4 linked regions of the Homo sapiens genome follow. The protein of the gene in region 3 interacts with the protein of the main gene of each other region in a biochemical or structural test. Each region holds a gene or a part of one and is shown on either strand. Other genes may lie near its edges. The genes, in order: GRAP2, MAP3K3, GAB1 and PLCG1.

Region 1 (7,927 bases), on a different chromosome or scaffold from region 3:
AACAGAATGTTCTGATAGTTCAGGCAATAAGTGATGAAGGCCATAACTAAGGCAGAGGTCATGGGCATAGTGTGAATCTCCACTCTGTTCACTCTCCTCACACATATACTTTTACATGTAATGTTAAAGTGTAGCAGTTATGGGATCGGGCTCTGAATATATGTGGCAATGAGAGAGAAGGAGGAGTCTACAGGGACTAAGTTTCTTTTTGGGGTGACCAAGTAAATGACTGTTGCTGTTCACCAAGATGAACATGATCCGAGGGGTCAGTTTGGCAGGAAAGCTGGGGAATTCTGCTTCGGACATTTTGAATCTGAGCAACAGGTGGGAGATGTTCAGGGGACAGTTGAATAGAGATAACTGAAAGAAGAGGGTTTGGGGCTAGGTTCATAGACTTCAGAGTAGTCAGCATATAGAAGGTGATTGAGGAGGCAGATGGGAAGTAGGAGACAGGGTAAGATTAAAGACTGAAGTCCCAATAAACAGTGAGGGAGTTGGTTAGGCTTGGCAAAAGTGTCAAGTGTTACCAGCTTAGTGGAATTAACCCTGTTCAAGTGACAATATGTAAGGGGTCCTTCTTATCTGCTTTCCTCCATTTGGGGGCACAATTTAGTTGCAATACCGTAACATCCACTAAATACAAATATTGCTCTATGGTAGCTTGGTTGGTTTTCTCCTTTAATTTTTTGAACTTGAGGTTCTATAAAAGTGAACACAGTTTGCTTCACCTGACTTCCCGGACACCATTTCTCCTTCTCATCTCCTTGACTCATCCGTTCTCAATTCTATGACCTCTCAACTTTGAAGGAGCCCATTCTCTAACCTCTTGTCTTCTCTATCTATATTCACTCCACAGGTAGTGTTATCCACTTGCAAAGCGGTAAATACTCTTCGATTCTGACAACTCTCAAGGTTTTCTCTTCAGCTTCTCCTGACCTCCAAACTCGTGTATCTAACTACCTTGACCTCTACTCCTGGTCTTGCCTTCCAAACCTTCTCTCCCACGGTCTCTCCTGTCTCAGTAAATGACACATCCTTGCTTCTAGGTTCTCAGGCCATGAACCTGGGAGTCACCTTAACTCCTGTGTTTGTCTCTTATAGCTCTCATGATATCCATGAGCTTACCTTTGAAATACAAGGTGGCTACCCAGTCTAGATAATAAATGATTTATTGATGCTACATTCTAATACAAGATACAATAACATTATCTATGTTTCTAGACTTTATGATCACCCTGTATATTCAAAATCCAACCACTTCCCACCACTCACATCATCCTGTTTTAAGCCACAACCATCTCTGGTCTGGACTATGAAAGTAGCCTCTTTTTTTTTTTTTTTTTTTTTGAGATGGAGTTTTGCTCTTATTGCCCAGGCTGGAGTGCAATGGCGCAATCTCGGCTCACTGCAACCTCCGCCTCCCGGGTTCAAGCGATTCTTCTGCCTCAGCCTCCCTAGTAGCTGGGATTACAGGCATGCGCCACCATGCCTGGCTAATTTTGTATTTTTAGTAGAAATTGGGTTTCTCCATGTTGATCAGGATGGTCTCAAACTCCCGACCTCAGGTGATCCATCCGCCTCAGTCTCCCAAAGTGCTGGGATTACAGGCATGAGCCAACCATGCCTGGCCAACAGTAGGCTCCTAACTGGTCTCTCTTCTTCTGTTCTTGCTCCCTTGCTATCTAATTTCAGCACAACAGCCAGAGCTACCCTTTTAAAACTTAAAACCCAAGTCAGATCATACTACTCCCCAGTTCAAAATCTTCCATTGGCTTCCATCTCACTCAGAGTAAAATCCAAAGGCCTCGCCATGGCAACAAGGCCCTACATGTTCTGCTCTCTCTCTGATCTCCATCCCAACTCCTCTCCACCTCACTCACAGTGTTAAACATGTCTCCACCTGAAGTCTTTGCACTTGCTAGTCCCTATACCTGCAAAAGCTATTTCCCCAGATGTCCATCCAGGAAGTACTGGCTTCTTCACTTTGTTCTAGACTTTGCTCAAATGTCCTTTGATTTCCCAACGTAAAATCGCAACCCCCATCTCAGCCACACTCCCTGTGGCTCTTGCATCATTTTATTTTTCTCCCTAACAGTAGGACCATCTGATGTACCTTCTGTTTCTCCCTTTACCAGAATGTAAGATCCAGGAGGGCAGAGATTATGTTTTGTTCACTGATAGTTTTCCAGCACCTAGAACAGGACTAACACAGAGTAGGTGTTCAAACTTTATTTATTGAATAAATGAAACGAGAATGTCTGAATGCACACTATTAAATAAGAAGTACATATTTTACCATAAAGTTAAATTGAGCATAATTATGGCAAGAAGTTCAGATATTGGCCAGGCGCAGTGGCTCATGCCTGTAATCCCAGCACTTTGGGGGGCCAAGGTGGGCAGATCACCTGAGGTCAGGAGTTCGAGACCAGCCTGACCAACATGGCGAAACCTCAGCTGTCCTAAAAATATACAAATTAGCTGGGTGTGGTGGCAGGTGCCTGCAATCCCAGCTACTCGGGAGGCTGAGGCAGGAGAATCATTTGAACTTAGGAGGTGGAGGTTGCAGTGAGCCAAGATTGCGTCACTGTACTCTAGCCTGGGCAACCGAGCGAGACTCAGTCTCCAAAAAACAAAATAAAACAAAAAACAAAACAAAACAGAAGTTCAGATATAAACAAATGACCCCTCAAAAGGAATTGATTAAAAAAATTTTAAACAAAGTATGGTTTAAAAAAGAAACTTCTCCACTGTGGCTAAGTCCATATTTCACATGTTACTGTATCCTCCTCATCTTGCTGCTATTTTTCTGAGTATCTCATGATAGTGAGTACTGAAATGCTGGCATTCTCACATTAGGGTCTTTATTCTTAGGATCTGCCTTTGCACTCGTTCAGTTACAGAGCTGTTATGAAATAAACCACTCAAGTGGCCTTGCTTCCCTCCCACTATGCTCTACATAACATGTCTGTCAATCAGTACTTACTACCAAAATAACTTGCCTTTGAGATTTTTCTGTTCTGCAATCTGTCCCATGCTTGTAAGGGGAAGGATTATATTCTGCTCCCTGGGGAGTAGTGCCTGGTGCAAAATTAGCTTCCTCATTAGGGTACAAGCTGAAAACACCATGATACTTTCCATGTAACACCATTCAACATTTTCCCTTCGCTCCCACTCCCCAACCATAGAATTTTAGGGACTCCTTTAACCATTTCAAAACCATCGACTTGGGAGCTATCAAAGAATAAGGACTGTAGCCAGAGGATTTCAGCATTTAAAAACTTGGCAATAGAGCTGTTCAGTGTAATGATCCAAGAAGGTCCTTAGAAGGCTGAATAATTCTGAGGTCAAGGTTGAGACGTTATTATTTTTAAAGTAGCAAGATGTTGTTATTTTTAAATTTTATCTTTATAATGTGGAAATAGCAGAGATCCTTTTCAGATATAACCAGGATTTAAGAAAATTTGACAAAGTTGCATTAATAAAAAGAAAGCCTGTTATTAAGGAGCTACAGGGCCGGGTGCGGTGGCTCATGCCTGTAATCCCAGCACTTTGGGAGGTTGAGGCGGGCGGATCATCTGAGTTCAGGAGTTCAAGACCAGCCTGGCCGACATGGTGAAACCCCATCTCTACTAAAAATACAAAAAAAATTAGCCAGGCATGGTGGCAGGTACCTGTAATCCCAGCTACTTGGGAGGCTGAAGCAAGAGAATCACTTGTACTCGGGAGACGGAGGTTGCAGTGAGCCAAGATCATGCCATTGCACTCCAGCCTGGGCAAGAAGAGTGAAACTCCGTCTCAAAAAAAAAAAGGAGTTATGGATAGAAAATTACTTCCTTTAACTCATTCGACAAATATTTACTGAGCATTTTCTGTCACCTTGACACTTTGCTGATTCTTCTTTTCTATTTCAATAAAAATGTTGGGCAATTATAACCAAGGAAAAGGTTTTAAGAAAGTAAATTTTAAGCAAGGTTTAGATATAAAGAAGCAAAGAGATGGAAAAGGATGCCGTTTCACATTGCAGAAAAAGTTTAAATTTTAGAACCCCAAATTGAATCTCTCCTTGACACTCTCCTCTTGGTATTCCAGGGATTAATGCTAGGAACATCCCAGTGAGCCAACATTTCCCTCCTCATCTTGGATCCAGTCCCCAAACTCTGAATGGTGCCACTTAGCAAGTAGCAATGTCTCTAATTTTCTGTAAAAGATGCAACGTTGGCAATCCATTTTCTAGCAAGAGCAAAGAGAAAGGAAGAGGCCTTCACAAGTTGCAGTTGATATAGGGGGAAGGGTGAGTGGTACATTTAAAGGTAAGAACTAAGGAAGTTGAAGGTAACAAAACTCAAGGTCAATGGAAAGTCTTAAATCCCAGAAAGCCTTCAGTCTAAGACTCAACAGAAATTGAAGTCCCAGAAATTGAAGGAACTGGTTCCACCTCATGCTGGACTGTGGCAAACCTGGGGTGAGAATGCATCCCAGCTCAGAATGTTTCTTCTTTTTTTGTCAAGAGTAATATTAGAGGCTGAGTGTATGAACAAAGCATCTTTCCTGGGATTTTAACATTGTGAGTGATCGAGGGTGCTCTTAAATAAGTTCCCCCAAGAAGCCCTAATGTTCCTCTGGATGCATGATTATACTAAGAGAATAAGAGTTTTCCTTAAGATCAGCTTGCTGATGGACCATATCAAGAACTATAAATTTTCTTATGTGAACACAAGTGTTCAGGGGGGATATTGTTAAAACTGAAACCAAGCATAAAGAAGCAAAAGTGTTTCAGTGAACCTCCTGCATTTTAGTTCAACTCTGGCAGCAAGAAAACAAAACCACATAATCTAAGGCTCACGCCCAACTCTCCGAAGCCCCATATGTGCTAGTTCCTGTGTGGTTTGCCTACAGACTGCAGGGCTGACTAGGGTTAGTTTGGAGGAGGGAGTAAGAGGTGGGGAGGAGGAGGCACAGTTAATGGATCTGTAAACTTGCACCCTCTTTCAGAGTGGTACATGGAAGACAGCACAAAGTGGATCCATACTCTGAAATGCAGTAACTCTGATGCTTGAATTTGTCTCCCTTCTTGCCAGAAAGGATTCTAATAACTCGGTGTCAAAGCCAAGACATAAACTCAACCCCTTCTCTTCCAAAAGGTATGTCATTATACAACATCTGTACATATACTCTAGAAACTTTGAACAGTTTTATAATTTGCAGAATGTTCTGTATGAGTTAATTAAAATGAATCTCACTAGTTCTCTAAATATTGCTTTTAAGTCCCATCAGCTAAGGTCTCTAAACCTTTTGCTGTGACAATGTTTGTGGTGATGGGATTTGACTTCTATCAAATGAACTGGGAGAACACTTGTTCCTTACCCAGTCCATAACACAAAAATCTCCACAAACTGGCTTCAGAAGCATCTCAGGGAAAGATTTTCGACCTTGGGATCATGGAGGTAAAATTCCACTTCACCATGGTCAGAATTTAATCCAAATTGGAAGGGATTGGAGGGGGTGGTAGAGGGCTGAGCAGTGATGAATGAACACTAGCACTCTGAGGTCAGGATTTCTCTCTTTGCTTGAATTTCTAGTTCTGTTCGCATTTTTGTTACCTGTACAAAGGACACCAGTTTTCATTCCTTTACGAAAAGAAAACTTTATGTTGAAGTGTATTTTGGAAGGGTATTGTCTCTCTTCGTACTAGCCGTTAGGCTCCATCCCTATGACTGTCTCTGGTTTAGGCGTCCAGTCTGAAGATAGCTGCTTTGTGTTCTTTGTCCCAACTCTTCCTGAACGTGAGGATTGAACATACCAACCAAAGGTTTCACTAATTTAAAATGTACTGTATTGCCCTGACAGGTATACTGTCAAAAAAAATTTACCGTATTTATCTACCTGGAATTAGGCCTTCTTAATAAAGTGTATGCAGCATAATTTGCACACTATTGAACATACACATCCCTAGATAAACTAGGAGTGGGAAGTGTTTTAGATCTAAACATCCAATGGGAAAAATTTCGTGTGTTCTCGTTATGTTATCTGAGGATGGGAAACTTCAGGTCGCAGAATCTTTTGTTCTATGCAGCAATGTTTGTCATAAACGGTTTAGTTCTTTAGTGGCTCCTTTTTGTTTCTTATTTTTGGTTTCGGAAAGAGTATTTAGCAGAAGTTACTCTCCTTTAACAATCCAGTATTTTATGTAAAACTTTATAGAATAATTTTATAGTGATTCTCTTTACAAAACCATCTGCTATTAAATAAGGAACACTGTGTAAATAGAGGACCACCTAAGTATATTTAATTTTCAAATACGAAAAAAATCTGACTCATACCCTTTTTTGTTTTTTTGTAAAAGAGAGGTGGCCCTATATTATTGAATAAAACTGCTTTTTTAGATTGAACTTGGAGTGTCTCCCATGTGGTAAACTGAAATCTTATTCTCCCCAAATTGTAATAGATTTTATCTTTTTAAAAATGACTTTACTGAAGCAGAGGAGAAGGAGATGATCAATCTATTCAATATGAAGAAATATCTCTGTTGCTAATACAATATCCTTTTGAATATCTCCCACATCTTAGGCCCTGGTGAAAATCCCTTTCAATTGTTCTGTCTACCTCGTAGGGATGTTGTAAGAATAAATGAGTTAACATAGATATGAAGTGCCTTAGGAAAAAGGCTCTATAAAAATGCAAGGCGATATCATGATTAGTTGTTTCTTTGACTCTTGATCATTTTCTTCCCACTTCTTATACAAAATGTCTCTCACTTATTTCCTGAAGCCATCTCTTTTAGAACTATTGCTTCCTAGAAGAGCTGAAAATGATCCTAGTTCCAACATATTTATTGATTCCCAGATAATAACACCCACTGGTGTTGATGACTGACAGGGTTCATGCCTAAGCTTGAGTAGAACTTGCCCTTTTTTCCTGGGTCAAGAAAAGTCTGCAATTGTTCGAAAATGTGTCAGTAAGTGTGATTCCATCACGATTTCTTAAATAAGTAACAGTTGCTGCTGGATAATCCTGGGGGCAGATGATTCATTTTTGTGCCCCTATCAAACAAACTCAAAACTTGTTAAAGAATCTTTATAAGTTGTTTGAATCAAACAATAGGGTCGCTAGGTCCCCATTTTGTCCATTTGAGGTATTTGCCCAGCATACCTTGGTCTGTAAAGAAATAGCACAGCCTTGGCTGGGCGCGGTGGCTCATGCTTATAATCCTAGCACTTTGGGAGGCCGAGGTGGGCAGATCTCCAAAAATAAATAATAATAATGATAATAACACAGCCTCATGAGTCTTTTTTTTTTTTTTTTTTTTGAGACAGGGTCTCACTCTGTCACTCAGGCTGGAGTACAGTGGCACAATCACAGCTCACTGCAGCCTCAACTACCCTGGGTTTAGTGATCCTCCCACCTCAGCCTCTCAAGTAGCTGAGACTACAGGTACACACCACCACACCTGGCTAATATTGTATTTTTAGTAGAGACAGGGTTTTGCCATGTTTCCCAGGCTGGTCTTGAACTCCTGAACTCAAGCGATTCGCCTGCCTCAGCCTCCCAAAGTGTTGGGATTACAGGTGTGAACCACTACACCTGGCCTGCCCTTTCTTTTCTCTTAAAAATTCTTAAGAAAGCATGGTCCTGTTTAACAAATAAGCATTTTACAAACATTTATCGATCAATTACTATATGCCAGGCCTGGCACTAGGCACCAAGTCCTCTTCAACAGTGTTAACATTAAGTTTCAATAAACTTGAGTCAGTAGGAATTCAGTAAATAATTTTTAAAGATTGTTTTCTTTTTAAATATGTATTTATAAACAAAAATTTTAGAGAATTAAAAGAAACTATCACGAAGTGCATGATGATAAAAGTCTTATATACTCTCCAAAGAAAATGTTAAGACATACCTTAAGGAGATAGTGAAGAACAGCCGGGCA
Region 2 (7,500 bases), on a different chromosome or scaffold from region 3:
AAATGGAGAGAAAGAGCTATCTGATCATTCGAAGGTATCCAACTTGGGAAACTGGAGAGGGACAGAGAAAATACAGAACTATGGGGGAAAATGGTTTCAGTTTGGACCCAAAATTGGAGGTTCCTGTGGGACACCCATGTCTGTGGAGTTCAGAAGAAAGACATCCCTGAGCTAGAGACACAGTTGAGATTCTGGAATCCTCAGCGCATATGGTAACTGCAGTATGGGAATGTTTGAGATGGCTGGTTGAGACACCGACAGTGCAAATGAAGCCACAAAGAAGGCAGTTGTAAGAAAGGTAGAAGGTAAATCAGAAGGTTGTTTTCAGCTAAAGACTCAGGTAGATGTACTGCGGTTCTCCATGTGTGAGGCACTATTCTAAGTGCTGGTGATAGAGCAGTAAGCAGGACAAAATTCCTGCTCCTGCATACCTTATGTTTGTGGTAGTTGGAGTAGAGCAAACAAATAAATATATAATTTTAGCCACTGAGAAAAAAAAACAAGGAAAAAATATACAAATACAGAATGATGGAAGGGAGGGGTCATTTTGGATGGGGTGATAAGAAATGACTTAAAAGCAGACGTTTGAGCAGAGACTTGAATAAACTGCAGAAATGAGAACATCTTGGCTTGGTAGTTTCAAAGAATGGAAAGAAGGCCAGAGTAGCTAGAGGACAGTGATGGAGGGACAGGATGGAGGGGCCAGCTCCTATTGGGCTTGGCAGGTCATGACAAAGAATTGGGGTTTTATTCTGAGTGTGATGGGAGGGAAGCCATTGGAGGGCTGACAGTGGGCAGGGGGTAGGGTGGCGTGATCTGAATTACATTTTACAGGGATCACTCTGGTTGCTATTGGGGAATCATTTGTTGGGCTGCCACAGAGGAAACAATGGAGGCCAGATAGGAGTCTGGGGCAGTCATTCAGGAGAGTAGGTGGTGGCTTGGATAAGGGGGGTGGGATGAGAAGTGGTTGGATTCAGGTGTGTGTGTGTGTGTGTGTGTGTGTGTGTGTGTGTGTGTATTTTTATTGTATTTTTTTTGGAGACAGGGTTTCACTCTATTGCTCAGGCTGGAGTGCAGTGGCACAATCTCGGCTCACTGCAACCTCCGCCTTCTAGGTTCAAGCGATTCTCCTGCCTCAGCCTCCAAGTAGCTAGGATTACAGGCCACCACACCTGGCTAATTTTTATATTTTTAATAGAGATGGGGTTTCACCATATTGGCCAAGCTGGTTTCGAACTCCTGACCTCAGGTGATCCACCTGCCCTGGCCTCCCAAAGCGCTGGGATTACAGGTGTGAGCCACTGCGTCCGACCTGATTCAGATACATTTTGAAGTGGGAGCTGAAAAGATTTGCTGCATGTTTGGATATATGGGTGTCAGGGAGAGAGAATAATCAAGGAACACTCCTAGGTTTGTACAGAGGGTCTCTGACTTACTATGGTTCGGCTTATACCTTTTTTTTTTTTTTTTTTTTTTGAGATGGAGTTTTGCTTTTGTTGCCCAGGCTGGAGTGCAATGGCATGATCTTGGCTCACTGCAACCTCTGTCTCCCGGATTCAAGCAATTGTCCTGCCTCAGCCTCCCAAGTAGCTGGGATTACAGGTGTGCGCTACCACGCCCAGCTAATTTTTTATTTTTAGTAGAGATAGGGTTTTACCATGTTGGTCAGGCTGGTCTCGAACTCCTGACCTCAAGTGATCCACCCGCCTCAGCCTCCCAAAGTGCTGGGATTACAGGTGTGAGCCACTGTGCCCCGGCCTCAGCTTATGATTTTTGGCGTTATGATGGTTCAAAAGCAACACACAATTCAGTAGAAACTGTGCTTTGAGTACAACCATTCTGTTTTTCATTTTCAGTACAGTATTTGGTAAATTACATGAGCTATTCAAAACTTTCTTATAAAATAGGCTTTGTGTTAGATAATTTTGTCCAACTGTAGGCTAACTTAAGTGTTCGAGCACGCTTAAGATAGGCTTGGCTAAGCTATGATGTTCAGTAGGTCAGGTGTATTAAATGCATTTTCTACTTAACGATTGTTCATCTGATGGTTTATCTGGACATGGCCCCATGGTAAGTCGAGCAGCATCTGTGCTTTAGCAATTGGGAAAACAGAAAGGAGCATGGCAGCTCACACCTGTAATTCCAGCAATTTGGGAAGTTGAGGTGGGAGGATTGCTTGAGCCCAGGAGTTTGAGACCAGTTTGGGCAAAATGGTGGGACACCCCCAACTCTACAGAAAATTTTTTTTACAAAGGCTCTACTCTACCTGACAAAATCTTATTCCTTAGTATTTAATTTCTCTTCTTAGGGAGAATTTAAATTTAATTAAGTAATTTAAATTAAAATTTTTTCCTGGCAGGGGTGGATAATGAAAAAAAGGTTGAGAAACACTGGCCTAGTGCAAGAACATGGCCTTTGGGAGTCACACAGGCTTGGTATGAATCCTGGCTCCACTACTTGGACACAGTGCTTAACCTCTCTAAGCTTCACTTTCATCATTTAAATGCCCACAGTATTAGCATAATAACCTTAGAGTTATTGGAAAAATTAAATGCAATGACGTGCCTGTTATATTGATAAATACTAATTTTCTTTCCCCTTTATCCCCGCTTTCAAGAATAGAGATTATTATAGTTAAGGAACTCCAGTAAACTGGGTAGAGACCAAATCAAGTGGGAATATGGCAGGCTTAAGCTTGTTGGAAGAAAAAGAAAACAGGACAAGGGGGCTGATTAAATATACGGAGATGAGTGTAAAGAAATAAGGGAGGCTGCTTGCAGTGGCTCACGCCTGTAATCCCAGCACTTTGGGAGGCCGAGGCTGGCGGATCACCTGAGGTCTGGAGTTCGAGACCAGCCTGGACAACATGGCGAAACCCCGTCTCTACTAAAAATTCAAAAATTAGCCGGGCGTGGTGGCGCACGCCTGTTAATCCCAGCTACTTGAGAGGCTGAAGCAGGAGAATTGCTTGAACACGGGAGACGGAGGTTGCAGTGAGCCGAGATCGCGCCACTGCACTCCAGCCTGGACGACAGTGTGAGACTCCATCTCGAAAAATAAAAAAGAAAAAGAAAAGAAATAGGGGAGAGCCCAAGGTAATTCTTAAGGGATTTGACACTCAAGGCAAAGCCACCACTAAATGTTCTTAGTGGACAGTGGACAATGACATCTGAGGAAGATTATTCTGGAGCCTGACATATTACACTGGAACAGAGGCCGGAGAAAGGAGCCCACATTAATTGTGGTGGACTTGGAATCTGAAGATCTGAGTGTATAAAATGTTGAACAATGAAAAGGTTGGGGAAATTAATTATGGTGCCTTTAATTTTGAAACATCATGCAATCAGTACAATTGTTTTGGAAGGATATTTGGTGGCACGGGAAAACAGAATAAAATGTAAGCATACTACAAAACAATACAAAGCCATTTTTGTCAAACGCCTATCTAGGTAGGAAATAGATTATCTCTGGGGTGGGATCTTTTCTTTTTCATAGTTTTCTGCATTTTTCAATTTTCCTACAAAAAGCTCGTGTTGCTTTTATAAGAAAAAAGTTATTTTCTGAAAGAACCTCTGGCGGAACTCAGATTTCCAGGGACCCACATGCCAGCACTATCCCAGCCTCGGGTGTCTGAGGTACCTAGACCAGAGGGTGTGGCCCTGGAGGTGTGAGACAGGGAAAGCTGGGCTGGGCCGGCCGCCCCTGCCCGGGGCAAGAGCAGCGTCGGGACCGGAGGACCAGTCGGGGGATGGGGCCGCAGAGGTGGCCGCGCGCCGGGAAGTGCTCAGGCCAGACCCTCCCCACTCGTTACACGCCCTGTGCTGGGCACGGGGAGGAGCAGGACGCCACCCTCTGGAACCACCCAGATCGCTGGGGCCTCCGAGAACCCGGAGGGCGGAAGGCCTGAGGGCCCCCTGCAGCCGCCTACTCCTCACCCCAGCCCTAAAGTAGCCGGCGGGGAACTGCGCCAGCCCGCGCGCCCGCCGAGCCTTCGGTGACTGACGGGAGGTGGGAATGTGGGCGGAGCCTCACGCCGGAGCTGTGATTGGAACAACCAACACCTCCCAATCTCTCCCAAGAGAGGGAGACAGCACCAGAGAGGGATGCGCAGAGGCGGGGGCTTAGAGGCCTCTACGTGATTGGCTAACAGCGCAGGGAGCCGGGCGCTGTCCCGATGATTGGCAGGCGCTAGACAGCCCTCGGAAACCGCCTTGGCTTCGCCCATTGGCATCCTGTGAGAGTAGGCGGGATTGGTTCATCGTGTGGTGCTGATGATTAGCTGGCCGCTGAGAGTTAGGGTGTTGGGAGAGAGTTGGAGGGGGACGGCGGGGGCTGCCGACTTCCTTCTTGTTATTGGCTGGTGAGGTGGGTGGGGGTGGTGCGACGGCCCAGCGGCTGCCTGGGATTGGTGGGGGCCGGCGTGAGTGACAGACAGGGGGGCGAGCTGCGCGACCAGCGGTTTGTTTTTCGGAGCGTTCCTGAGGTGGAGAACGGTGGCCGGACGGAGAGACTGCGGGTCTGAGGGACTGGCGGGCGGGCGGGCCGAGCGGCGCCGCCGAGGCCGGGCTGGGCCGAGCCCAGGAGCGCCCGGGATGTAGCGGGCCACCCTGCCGATGCCACAGCGCCCGGCCGCGGGCGGAGCCGGAGCCGGAGCCTGGGGAGGCGGCGGGGGCCCAGAGCGCAGCCCGCGCCCCCCGCGCGGAGCCAGGCCCGCTGCCGTCCCCGCCGCCCGGGCCCCCGGCATGCAGCCCCGGCTGCGGAGGTGACACTCACGGACCTTAGCCACCGCCGCCGCCATCGCCACCATGGGTAAGTGTCGCCACCGCCCCGGCCTGTGCCCGCGCTGCTTCGCGACGCCCCGCCCCAGGCTGAGGGAGGAGGACCCTGGGCCACCGCCTGACAGGCATGGACAGCCCGCCCGGCCCGGGGCTGCGGACCGCCGGCCGGCCGGCCGCCCGCCCCGCTCGCGCGCCGCGGCCCGGGCGGGGGTTCTGGCTCCGCGGGGCGGCCCGGCCGGCAGAGCCCGCTCGGCAGCCCTCCTTCTGGGCGGCGCGGCGGGCGCATCCCGGGGAAGCGGCGGCGGGACCGAGGGCCCGTGCTCCGCGGGGCAGCCTGGTCCGAACGAGCCGGACCGCGAGCCCGAGGGCGGGGGAGCAAGAGCGCAGTGTGGGGCCCGGGCTGGAGGCTGCCGCAGGCCCAGCTGCTGTTGTGTCTTTTCCTTGATTTGCTTTTTTTTCCTGCCTGTGTCATTTCCTTCCCTTTGCTCACACAGGCCGGCCTGTGAGAGTTCCCGGGGCTTGCTCTCCAGCCCTGTGCGCGCCCCAGCGCAGGGGGGAGGGCGTGCGGGGCTCGGCTAGGAGGCGATTAAACTGGAGCTGTGATCAAGCGCGCGGTTGACAAATGCGTGCTGCACGCAGATTGCTGGGGGTCAGGAGTTGGTCGGATGCTGCCAGTTAGAATTCACATCCTACTTTTTGAAAAATCCCGTTGCAGGGGTTTAATCCATTATTTTTTTCTTGCGGTATCCCTGAAATTATGTAACTTTTGAAAGAAACATTTGCTACACAAAAGAATTTCTCTGAAATCACTTCCTTTTTGTCAGTATTTACAATTTCTACTGTGAAGATGTAATCTAAGGAAAGCTTTTAATGTCTTCCGCACGTAGCATTTGAGTTGAATTATATTCCATATCCTTTTTGGTAGTTTAGCAAATGACTACTGGACTAGACTAAGAAATAACATTTTAAACGTTCTTTACTTCTCCTGCCCAGACAGGTGTTGTGATACTGTTGTCACAAGTTTTGCAAAATATTTGGTATTGCCCTAAATAATAATAAAAGGGTAAACTTCAGTGAGAGGATCGTTTGCAAAACGTTCCGTTGCTTCTGTGAAGTGCCCCATGTGAAGAGGGAGCCTTAATGTTTGCCTTGCCCTATAGCAAGGTCAAGTCCTTTTTGTAGGAGGTTAACTGTACGCTATGTCAAATTCGCCAGATATTGTTTTGTGACCCATCTCTACACCCTGGCTTTGAATGAATTGCCTTGTTCTAGTTCATGCTGTCCCTCATACAGTATGAGAAGGGTTTGTTCATTTGCTGGGCTTACTGTTTCCTTCTCATGCTTTCCTTCAGAAGTGCGTGCTCTTCTGAGGGAAGGTCTGCTGTGAGAGTGGACATAAAAGGAACCCAGTAAGGCCTGGTATTTAAATATATAATTGAAGAAATGTTTATTGAATTTTTTTATAGATGAGACACAGAATTCTTGTCTACCCCAGGATTCAAACATTTATCTTGTATTATAGATTTTGAATAAATCTTCGAATTGATTTATGAGCCTGTATTGTGATAGTCTTTCTTACAAGTCTTTTTTCTTGTCCTGTGGGGGCAGCTGTTAGTCCCAAAGGAGAGTGTGAAATACTTAAGGGTATGTAGACCATCCACTTCCTACTTTGTTGACTGCTACACCAGTTAGAGTGCCCACATGTGTTGACTACATCTCATTATCTAACATGAAAATAGATATGAACCTGTTTTCACATTTCAAGACATTTTCAAAAAGTTTATAAGTGTGTGAGTATATGGAGACCAATGATGGGGAGGAAGGAAACTATATAGGCTGGGTCTAGAGCCCCAAAGAAAAAAGGGCCAGGACCTCAGGATCTTCTCATTTGTCCCCACATCAGTTGTCCTCCTGTCAGTTTTACGTGAAGACACATGTAAAAGGAACATGCAAGAGGAATTAACTTCCCTGGTGGCTGCAGTATATTAGGCAAGCTAGTTTAAGAACCACTGCCCTAGCTTTCTTCACTTTCCCCCATACAATTCTCTCCATCTTTTTTGTGAGGGGAAAGTAGATGACCTTGATACACTGTTAGAGCTAATATTGAATTCTTCTTGACACCTGGCTGTTCAATTTGCTTTGTATAGAGCTCATTGAGGATATGTATACACAGATACATTCACACACAGTCTCTCTCTTAAATACTAGTTTCCATTTTGGTGATGAAAATTTGAATTTCCAGTTTAGTTAGTTTGCTTTTAGTTGCTGTAGTTCTAAATAAACTCAAAGGATTGATAAGAGAGAAACATAGACTTCTTAGTATTTTAGTTATACTTGTTAAACTCCAGCCTCATGAAGAAAGGACTAAAACTTGAGTCTCTGCCCTGCAGGTTCTTTGGTTAAGTAACAGTCACATTTTCCTGAGCTGTTCTAAGCCCAAGACTGAAGCCTGTTTGACAACTTGGGTTAATAAAAACATGTCAGATTTTATATTGTCTGTTAGCCCCAATGAATTTCTAGTGGAAATTATTTATCTCTGTAAATAATAGGAAATTTTTTTTTTTGCTTTGATACTATGTGGCTATAAAAAATTGGGATTGACTGGTTGTTTTTTCTTGGTCACTCCAGAATTCATTTCCAGATTTAGTAATCATAGTGGCAAATGCTGTTCATAATACCTGAGATTGTTTATGTGGTCTTTTTATAAACGCAGTCTGAA
Region 3 (7,035 bases):
AGGTAAATGACCTACATACCCAGCAAAGATTACTCAGAAGGCTTTGGTTTTATGTAACAGCATCACTAGGAACAAAGTACCTTCCCAAATATTTTACATTATTAGGAGTTCAATATTTCCTTTTACCTTTTCTCAACACTTCAAACATTTAAACCTGAAACTGTCAAGAACATGTAAAGTAAATAATCCTACATAACTTTGGGGTCAATTATAACTTTGCCAGAGGGTAGAGGGTTCAAAAAATACCTCCCTAGCTGAATGAGGTAATCGTTCCTCATCAAGCTCTACACAACAGCACTGGAATTCAAAACGCTGAAGGTAGCTTTTACCTAGTATCTCTCTTACAAAAGTCAAAGATTAAAGCACTTCTCTCTCGATAATCAAGGAGTCATCCCTCCACCAGCACCTTAGTCTTGGCAACTCCAACTCTGGCCACAGCAGTGATGGGAATGTGCTAAGGACTGGAACTGGGAAGGCACACAGGCAGGTAATTCTTTCATCAGGTAGTCATCTCAGGGAGGAGTTCTGCCAGTCAGAAAGTGGCCTAACCACATTTCCCAATACAGCAGTAACTAAAAGCTGCATTTCAGGAGAGAAAAACATCTACATGCTAGTTGGAACATTATTATTTCTATTCTTGATTACTAAGTAAGAGTGACACAAATTAACACTCTCTTTTTAGAGAAAAGTTTCGTGAAAGAATGTGTGTGTAAAGATTGGGACACAAATATTTTGTGATTTTTGATGTCTAGGCTTATATCACAGAGAAGCAGAAATGAATAGGAAAAGAGAGAGTAGGGAACTATGGCACAGAGTGCTTTTACCTTCCTCTCATTTAAAAAGTTAGCAAATAAAATGTTACAACAACTGGCTGGCTAATGAGTTAAATACAACAATAAAAACTACAACGAGGCAAGAGATCACTTGGGGCCAGGAGTTCAAGACCAGCCTGGGGAATGTAGAGACCCTGTCTCTATTTTCTATTTAAAACAAAAACTACAACAAAATGAGTTGAGTTCTTCCAATGCTTATGTCCAGGATTTCGTTTCACAAAAGCAAATGTGAAACTTGCTTAACTTAAATTACATTTACCTGCTTATTTCATGTTTAAATAGCTAAATATCTCTAGGCAATAATGATAAATAACCAAGCAATGTAAAAGTAAGTTAGAAGACCTTGGTATTATTTGACATTTTGCCCCTCTTCTGACAGGAGGATGGCCTCCTCTCACTTTTCTCTTGAAATGTAAAATGGAAGTTTGATGCTTTCCCCTACGTGCAGTATTCTTAAAGAAGTATGTATAAAGCTGTTTTCAAAATAAATTTAAACTACATGAGTCAAACCAAAAGAAAATAAATAAAAAAGGGAAAGGAAAAACAACAGGATAGTTAAAGCAAAGTTTAATATTTGTCTTCCTAAAAAAAGAAAGGCTTAATATTTTTACATTGAAATGTTTGGACTCTTGGTATGTTGTTTTTAATTCATGAGACAATGTGGCCATTTGTTTTTTCCTCTTAGGACATTGTTTTTTGAACACATAACTTAAGAGAACTACCTAGGCCAAGTATGAATTCAAAGTAAAAAGCTGGGAGAAAAGAAAACCACCATCAGAAAAGCACTTGGTAAATTTGGCATTCTTTCTAATATATAAAAATAAAAGAAAACTCAGTTTAGAAAGATGATAAACATTATTGAAACACACACTAAGAGGTGAGGAAAGAATGATTAAATGGTAGAAAAAAGTTAACTCACATTTCTCCTTCTAGAAGCTCTATTCCTTTATAACTTATATCCTTCACGTGCAGTTTGCATATAGTAGCTCTGCTAAAAACAACCACATGGAAAATTTTTGTTCCAGATAATACTGCAGGACAGGGCTTGGCAGCTACAAGTTGTAATCAGAATGCTTCAAGAGCTAATGTAACAGAGATAACAACCAAACATGCATTACAGTGCATAGTCTTAATTCTTTTTAAAAACGGGCTGGGAGAAGGTCAAAAGCTCTTAGGTTATAGTGTACTTTATTCAGTAATGCGACCTTTTAAACTAGGGAGAACTTCGCTCCTATGAATAAGTGAATTGCTTAAAAGAGAAATGATTCTTTTTTCCAGTTAGGGCATTCTTCTATTATTTAAGATGCTCAAACATAGAAGCCTAGAATGAGCAAAAAATTCCAGTTCCTAAAAATGACTTTTCTCAGCAATTCTACAGGCCTAAATTGTCATCTACAATTTATTGAGGCTCCTATAGCCATCCCACTGGCAACGGAAGAGCCTAGTTATTTAATAAATATGGAAATCCACAGTACAATGGGCCACTTTTTGCCAGGGGTAATATAAAAAAGAAAGAATGCTAATTTTATGTGTGTTATACCCCAAGAGGGGAGAATAAAGAGAACTGTGACTTGATAAGTTTTCTGTATTAGTTGGCAGACTGAGATAAAAGGAGTCACAGAAAGATCGTGACTTCAATCCAAGTTCAAATGGCAAATTCAGATGGAGCTCTAACTTGGTGGAAATTAGGCGCCATGTTGATGCGAGGAATGTGAAATGAGAGAAACCCCTCCATCCACAGGGAGAGGGGGTTTCATGTGATCCGTTGGTGTTATTCTCTCCCCCCCAACACGAGCTGGCACTCACACAGCTGGGCTAAGATGGCTTCCAAAGTCCGAAATAAGACGCTAGCCCAAGGCAGCCCTGGTCCTGCTGCTGGAACTCAGAAGCAAATGAATCAAAGGCTCTTTTATTCTCCCTCCCACCAGAACATGCTCCCTCTCTGTTGTAAACTAACTGCTTGCCAGAATGAATTACTTAGCTTAAAACAGACATAAAGAAATCTTAAACAACTCATGTCCCTTGGAATTTTAATAAGTTCAGGTGACCAAACAAGTTGTTTTGTTCATTTCTAGTTTGATGCAGAAAATTCACTTGTGCTCAGGAACCCATGAGGAACATTAGATCTTAGCAGAAACAAAAACTTCTCAAACTAGAAGATACAGCTGACAGCCAAACTCCTCACATGAAACTGGGGTGCTGGGAAGCAGTTTTTTTCATGAGGACATCTAAACTCAACACAAATCTTTGTTCTTCCTTTAAAACCAGCCCTCCCTTAAGATTTTGCTGTTGCTGCCAGCAGTACACCAGCTCTTCTAAAAGCAAAGTGTAAAATTCATTTGCGGAGTCTTCCCTGGCATCTCGTACCCCTGCATCCCCTGTTCTCACTCTAAACTTTCATTTGGCAACTAATCATATATCATAGCTCCTATAAAATGACTGACAGCTTGTCTTCACAAACAGATTAGAAACTCCTTAAGGGCAGAGAGTGGGCCTTTCCTTCCTTGCATTCCACACATGGCACATAACAAAAGCTCCTGCGATACCTGTTTATTATTCAGTCAACAGGCATCTGTTGAGCTCCTACTCTGAGCCAGGCATTGCACAGGGGCTCAAGACACAGCACCCAGCCCAGGAGCACAGCAGCCAAAGGCCCTGCATGCAGGTCTGCCTTCAGTTAAAAACCAAGAGTCCCCAAAGAATACTGCTTAAGCAGTCACTAAACTATTTAAGATAAATAGTAAAGATTTCCCCACAAGGAAGATTTATGTCCCCCAAAAATTTATGTTGCAGCTTATTGAAGAGCTCCCCATTTGTCCCTTCCACCCAAGAAAATGTCTGAGAAGAGGAACGCTAAACTGCAACAGGGCTTCTGCTGAAGATCTACAGCTCCTCCCTCCCCCATTTTACAGGTAAGGAAACTGAGGATCAGAATGGTCAAATGCTCCTGTGGGTGGGTAATGGCAAAACCAAGTAGAATCCGGGTCCTGACACTCAGTCTGAGTTTCCTTCCACTATAGCAAAACATCCCCACTAAAAGCATCAGTGGGTGCATCAAATTACATTTTAATACAAAATTCTTCAAAAGTAAAGTAGTAGCCCATCTACTACAATGCTCCTTCTGGCTGTCAGTCTCTGTAAGAAAATTAGGACTGCTGAGTACCTAACACATGTTTTGAATCTATCACCTCTGGCTGGGCACGGTGGCTCACACCTGTAATCCCAGCACTTTGGGAGGCTGAGGCGGGCGGATCACCTGAGGTCAGGAGTTCGAGACCAGCCTGGCCAACATGGCAAAACCCCATCTCTACTAAAAATACAAAAAAAAAATTTGCCGGGCGTGGTGGCAGGAGCCTGTAATCCCAGCTACTTGGGAGGTTGAGGCAGGAGAATCAGTTAAATCCGGGAGATGGAGGTTGCAGTGAGCCATGAGCCAAGATCATGCCATTGTACTCCAGCCTGGACAAGAGCGAAACTCCATCTCAAAAAAAAAAAAAAAAAAAAAAAAAAAGAATCTATCACCTCTGAAACTTTCTCAGTCTGCAAATTGTCAATAGCTTATCTACATATTTTTATGTTAAGTCTAAAATATGGGATTTTACTTACTCTCAAAAAACGCTGTGTGTTTTACTCCTTACATTTTTAAGCAGGTTATGGCAAAATACACTGAAATAACCAGTCACTTGTCAAACAGATTATCCAACTATAACTCTTGCCACTTTTTGTTCCAAGATGATCTCTTAAAAAAATAATTTTAAAGAGCCAGCAGAATTCTCAAACTACCCCCTCCAAACTAATGCACCTTCCTAACAGTAATTCTGAATCTCAAAAGGTAGCAATCAGATTTGGAGATTCAGCAAGTTGCACGTGGAGAGTTCTACACTTATCATTCAGCCCAGGCACAACAAATGAACTATCATTAACCATCATAAAGGCTTAATGTAATTGCAAGTTGATGATCTCTGTTAACAGAAAAAACATTCTTGCTACACTTGAAAAGGTAAAAACATTGGGAGTCTGAATTATGTTTACTAACATGAGGATGGCAAGAAAAAATTTCCTTCAATAGAATAATTATGCTTATTCAGTCACTGTAAGCAGAAACATCAGAATCCATTGATTGCTAGTGGTAATTGTCAAAAAAGGATAGGAAGAGCTTCTAGACATGACAGTCCTCTTTGTTGTAGTGACACTATTGAGCAGGGGTTTCATGCTTAGCACAGGTCCTGGGTTGTCCTTGAACCAAGGAGATGCTGACACTTGGCCTGCCCACGCCCCTCTCCTCCATGTCAGATGTCAGGTGCCCACCCAGTAGGAGAGGCTATTTCTGTTTCTAGGCCCATTTCCAGAACCAGGGGTGTGTTTTTGAAGTCCAGACAAGAGTTGTCCTGTTAATTGACAGCTGCAGAGCAGACAGAGAGCCCACGCTGGGTACAGATTACCTACCTAAGAACTGGCTGGGGCCTTGCTACCAGGCTGGCTGTCAGCTAACAGGCCACCTTGCTCTGGCCTCAGAAGCAGGTTCTCCTGCTGAGATTGTGCACCTGCCCAATGCTGACAGCTGGGCTATGGAGGAGCCCAAACTTAGTGTTTGGGCTTCAGGCAAGGAAGCTCCTCCTCCAGAGCGATGGTGGTAGCCAGCTGTCTTGAAACAATACTTTATTTACAGACTTGCATCTTATTTCAGCTAAAATTTCAGGTTCTGATGAAAATTTCACCATCATTTCTTTAAATAATTCTTTAAAAATCTGAGCACCATTGTTGAGTGCATACTACCAAGACTTTACTTGTTTTCTGTAATCCTAGTGACAGTAATCTGTTTATGATTCCATCAGGTCCTTAACAAAGTAAAAAAGCAGCTGTTTAATATATAACACAGCATGAAAACAGCAACACCACAGTAGCAACCCTGAAAAGAAGCATTAAAATTTTCACCTACATTTTAAGTAGATTTTAAAAACTTCCAGGAGAATGAAACACATACAAGAAAGAACCTTTTGCGAATATAGAAAAAATTAAAAAGAGAAGGAAAAGCTGGGGAATCTGCTGACTACTCTTGACTTTCATTTTTTTGTGTGTCATTCTTTAGAAAATTCAAGAAAAGCTTACACATCAGACTAACACACTAGCGTGTACAAAAAACAATCCTGCTTGAGTTGACTATGAAACAGTAAACATAAAACGGAGCTGTAAATGGAATACATTGGGGGCCATATATGAGATGGCTTTAAAGCTAAAACTAAAACAATTTAAGGCCAGGCGTGGTGGCTCATGCCTGTAATCCCAGGACTTTGGGAGGCTGAGGTGGGTGGATCACCTGAGGTCAGGAGTTTGAGACCAGCCTGGCGAAATCCCATCTCTACTGAAAATACAAAAATTAGCTGGGTGTGGAGGGGGATGCCTATAATCCCAGCTACTGGGGAGGCTGAGGCAGAAGAACTGCTTGTATCTGGGAGGCAGAGGTTGCAGTGAGCCGAGATAGTGCCACTGCACTCCAGTCTGGGTGACAGAGCAAGACTCCATCTCAAAAAAAAATTAATTAAAAAAAACTAAAACAATTTTTTTGTCACTTAAAAGCCCTTATGGATCATCTTAATCAGTGTTCGGACTACCCTATAAATGCTGTAAACAGTGAGACAACTGTCAAAGTCCCATGGGCCAAATATTTCCAAACAGAATCATGATGCTCAAACTCCCTGAAGTCTCATTTAATAATTATAGTATCAAGCATCCAAGATATCTTTTCATAGCAAATCCATTCATTACAAATCATTATCCACAAACATTTTGCCTACTGGGTGGCCAACAATGTTTCCTTTATCCAGAAAAATAAACATTCTACATAAAAAAAACAAGCATAGGAAATGCACGTATACATGTCTATATCTTTGATGGTCAAAGCTACTTTAGCAAAAACCATCTAAACTGGACAGCAAAGCCAAAAGATCAATAATCTGGGAATGTCAAAATCTTCTGGGCCACCAACCTGACAGGTAAAATACAAGCCTTATTTAACCTGACAGTTAAATAAGCCTTATTTAACTCATTACACTCCATGCTGGTTTCCTCTATTCTGACAGCCGCCCTGTCTACTGTCTTCCAGGACTATCTCCATCTACTTTATTCGTGGGTAAAGAAAACACCAGTGCTACACCAGGCAAAGAAAATCCTAGTTTCTCCCAAGCTATTAGGCACATTCATC
Region 4 (2,619 bases), on a different chromosome or scaffold from region 3:
TTGCTGGGGCGGTGTCGGGGGTTAGGGAATATGCATAAGGACCCAGGGGCTTTCTGGAGGAAAAAGACTAAAGCCCCAGCTTCTAAGACCCAAAGCATTTGAATTTTGTTGGGGTGGCCCTGAAGGCCTGGGACAGAAGGAAAAAGGGTCCTTTGAAATGAAATCACCTACAGTGGAGCCAGGCAGTGATTCTGGACACCAGAATAGGAGTCCAGCTTATGTCATGGGGAAGCAGCTGTGTGTGTTGAATCCCAAAAACCAGGTCCTTGGAAACTAGACCAAACTGGCATGCAACTGGCAAAGCCAATCAGCTGAATGCTGTAGTGGGTAGACTCAGGCAGTGACTCACTTGGGATACTATGGGTGGAATTCGCAGGAGCGGCCAGCCAGGGGGGTTGCTGTGGGGTTCCTCCAGGCAGGGAACAGAATGCCTAGATTAACCCCTAAGCACAAGTCCCCTGGGAATTACTAAAGTACCCAGAGAAGACAGGAGTTGCAGTCTGAGACTGTGCTTGATCCATTTAATTAAAATGTGAAGAAGGCATGATCCTTTCATTCACCGAGTTAGTCTGGTGGGATAACCTGAACCTATTTGCTTTCTACCCACCCTCAACAGAACTCACATGGTGAGTGATGGGCTCAAGTTGAAAGACAAGTGAGTGTCTAGGTCCTTAGTGATGTTCAAGCTCTCAGGTGATGTTCAAGATGTGCTTGGTCAGGAGGCAGACCCCTGCCTTTTCTGCTCATGGCCACAGATACTCAACTGAGGTCAGAAACTGCTCCTGCCATCTTCCCGCAGGGCAGTCTTTAGTCCTGTGGCGGGGGCAGAATGCCCCTGACCTTGTAGGCTCTACTTTGTATGTGTACATGTCTGCTGAGCCAAAGCTGTTGAAAGTGAAAGGTCTGTCACTTTGAACCCAGTCTACTTGTCCCTGGTCTGTCAGCCAGAAGGTTCTACTGGTGATGGCAGGAGAACAAGGAGCCTGCAAGGGAGCCCATCTACCTTCTGGTACCACTGACTTCCCTCTCCCGGCCCTGCCTGCTCTTTTGGTTTGTGCTGCCAAAATCAGGGTTTTTCAACCCTTGTTACTCATTTAAATCACCTTGAGAGGTTTTGAACAATACCTATGCTAAGGCCCCGGGTACCAGTATTTTTCAGAAGCTCCCCAAGTGGTGCTAATGTGCTGTTAGGGTTGAGACTCCACAGGTCATAACCCTGAGCTGTCGCACTGTAGGGACACGGCCTGCATGCATGGGATGGGGCAAACAACTCCTGATGCCAAAGCATTCGGCCCCAAGTAAGGGTCTTCCCCACCAACAAACACTCTGCCTTCTGGGTCAATCAACATTTGTCAGGTCTGGAGGAATCTTGAAGTGAAAATGATCTTTAAATTTGCTTGAGAGTTGGCACGTTTTCCACTAGGAAGAACAATCAAAACATTTGCAGTGAGGCAAAGGCAATGTCTTACAGAGCCCAAGAGAGGTGAGCCTCAGGTCTACAAAGCTGCCTTAAGAAAGGCAGAGCTGTCTGTTCCCCAGGTTGTGTTCCAGAAAGACACTTGTTCAGCAAATAGAGATACGTATTGATGAAAACTAAAAGGGTCAACACTAACAAACACGCCAAGGACGTCCTAACCAACGTGGATGGGCCCTAACAGAAGGGCCTACACAGTCCTCTTCCTTCTCTGATAGGAAACCTTTCTCTCCAGGCCATAAAAACCTAGAGAGGAAACATGGATCATGAGGGCCCAGGTGAATTCCCACCCACCACCTTCTTGTGTATGGGAAAAAGCCACCCTCCTCTCTATGAACTGGGACTGTGAAGCTGTAAAAGAAAGTCACACAAGAACCTGAGCACTATCGCTGTTTGATACTGGCTATCATCAGTTCATGTCATCCACGGAACCGGATCTATCTTAAATTTTTTGTGTGGCGTCATTTTTGTTCCATCCCAGCACAGCCAACTATGGAAACAGAGCTTCAGGAAGAGAAGGGCCTTTCAACTGTGTTGAAAGGGCCCAGAGATTTCAGCTGCCAAGTCCTAGAGGCAATCAGAATGGCACCTGGCAGTGTTAACGAACTGAATGCAACATTTTTGAAAGGAGAGGTTTCTGTGGAACTGGAAAGGGGCTCTGGTTGTTTCCAGCTCACCACCAAAACTGGCTGGCCACAAAGAACCCAGGCAGGATGTACTCTGCTCAGACACACCCTCAGAGGGTGGGCAGGAGAGAGTGGACCCACAACTCCTGTTAGCCCAGAGGAGGGGTTACAGCTCTTGCTGCTTAACCTGAGAAATTTCCAGAAATTTCCTACCTGCTTCTACTGCAGAATAATCATCTGGCGACTGTTTCTAGTGAGCATGTCCCATGCAACAGGCTTTCCTGAGCCCCCGAAAGAGCATACAAGTCAAAGGAAAAAGGACATGAGGATGATTTATTTGGCAGTCAGATCTTAAGAGGGCAGCAGAACTAGCAAATGGCCAACCCTGAGCCCAAATGTGGGCAGTAGGTTTGTGTGTGCTGAATGCTGGCTATGCTATGAGGCACCTTTGCGCCCACGGGCCTGGACCCCGGCCTCTGTCCTCAGAGGTGAGGGCTGCCTTTCTAACCTTCCCATCTC

What was found.
Region 1: the proteins of GAB1 (region 3) and GRAP2 form a complex in vitro, tested with the Homo sapiens proteins (2 studies listed by BioGRID and IntAct, with this or other methods).
Region 2: the proteins of GAB1 (region 3) and MAP3K3 form a complex in vitro, tested with the Homo sapiens proteins (one study listed by BioGRID).
Region 4: the proteins of GAB1 (region 3) and PLCG1 form a complex in vitro, tested with the Homo sapiens proteins (2 studies listed by BioGRID and IntAct, with this or other methods).

What each region holds. Positions count from the first base shown.
Region 1 is NC_000022.11:39,896,190-39,904,116, forward strand, and holds the start of GRAP2 (GRB2-related adapter protein 2), read left to right. Parts: upstream 1-4,894; 5' UTR 4,895-5,049; coding exon of another isoform or gene 5,050-5,141; intron 5,142-7,927. UniProt on the Homo sapiens protein: Interacts with SLP-76 to regulate NF-AT activation. Binds to tyrosine-phosphorylated shc.
Region 2 is NC_000017.11:63,617,952-63,625,451, forward strand, and holds the start of MAP3K3 (mitogen-activated protein kinase kinase kinase 3), read left to right. Parts: upstream 1-4,465; 5' UTR 4,466-4,808; coding exon 4,809-4,812; intron 4,813-7,500. UniProt on the Homo sapiens protein: Component of a protein kinase signal transduction cascade. Mediates activation of the NF-kappa-B, AP1 and DDIT3 transcriptional regulators.
Region 3 is NC_000004.12:143,339,853-143,346,887, reverse strand, and holds part of GAB1 (GRB2-associated-binding protein 1), read right to left. Parts: intron 3,429-7,035; exon of another isoform or gene 3,353-3,428; intron 1,833-3,352; exon of another isoform or gene 1,753-1,832; intron 1-1,752. UniProt on the Homo sapiens protein: Adapter protein that plays a role in intracellular signaling cascades triggered by activated receptor-type kinases. Plays a role in FGFR1 signaling. Probably involved in signaling by the epidermal growth factor receptor (EGFR) and the insulin receptor (INSR).
Region 4 is NC_000020.11:41,175,515-41,178,133, reverse strand, and holds the end of PLCG1 (1-phosphatidylinositol 4,5-bisphosphate phosphodiesterase gamma-1), read right to left. Parts: 3' UTR 508-2,619; downstream 1-507. UniProt on the Homo sapiens protein: Mediates the production of the second messenger molecules diacylglycerol (DAG) and inositol 1,4,5-trisphosphate (IP3). Plays an important role in the regulation of intracellular signaling cascades.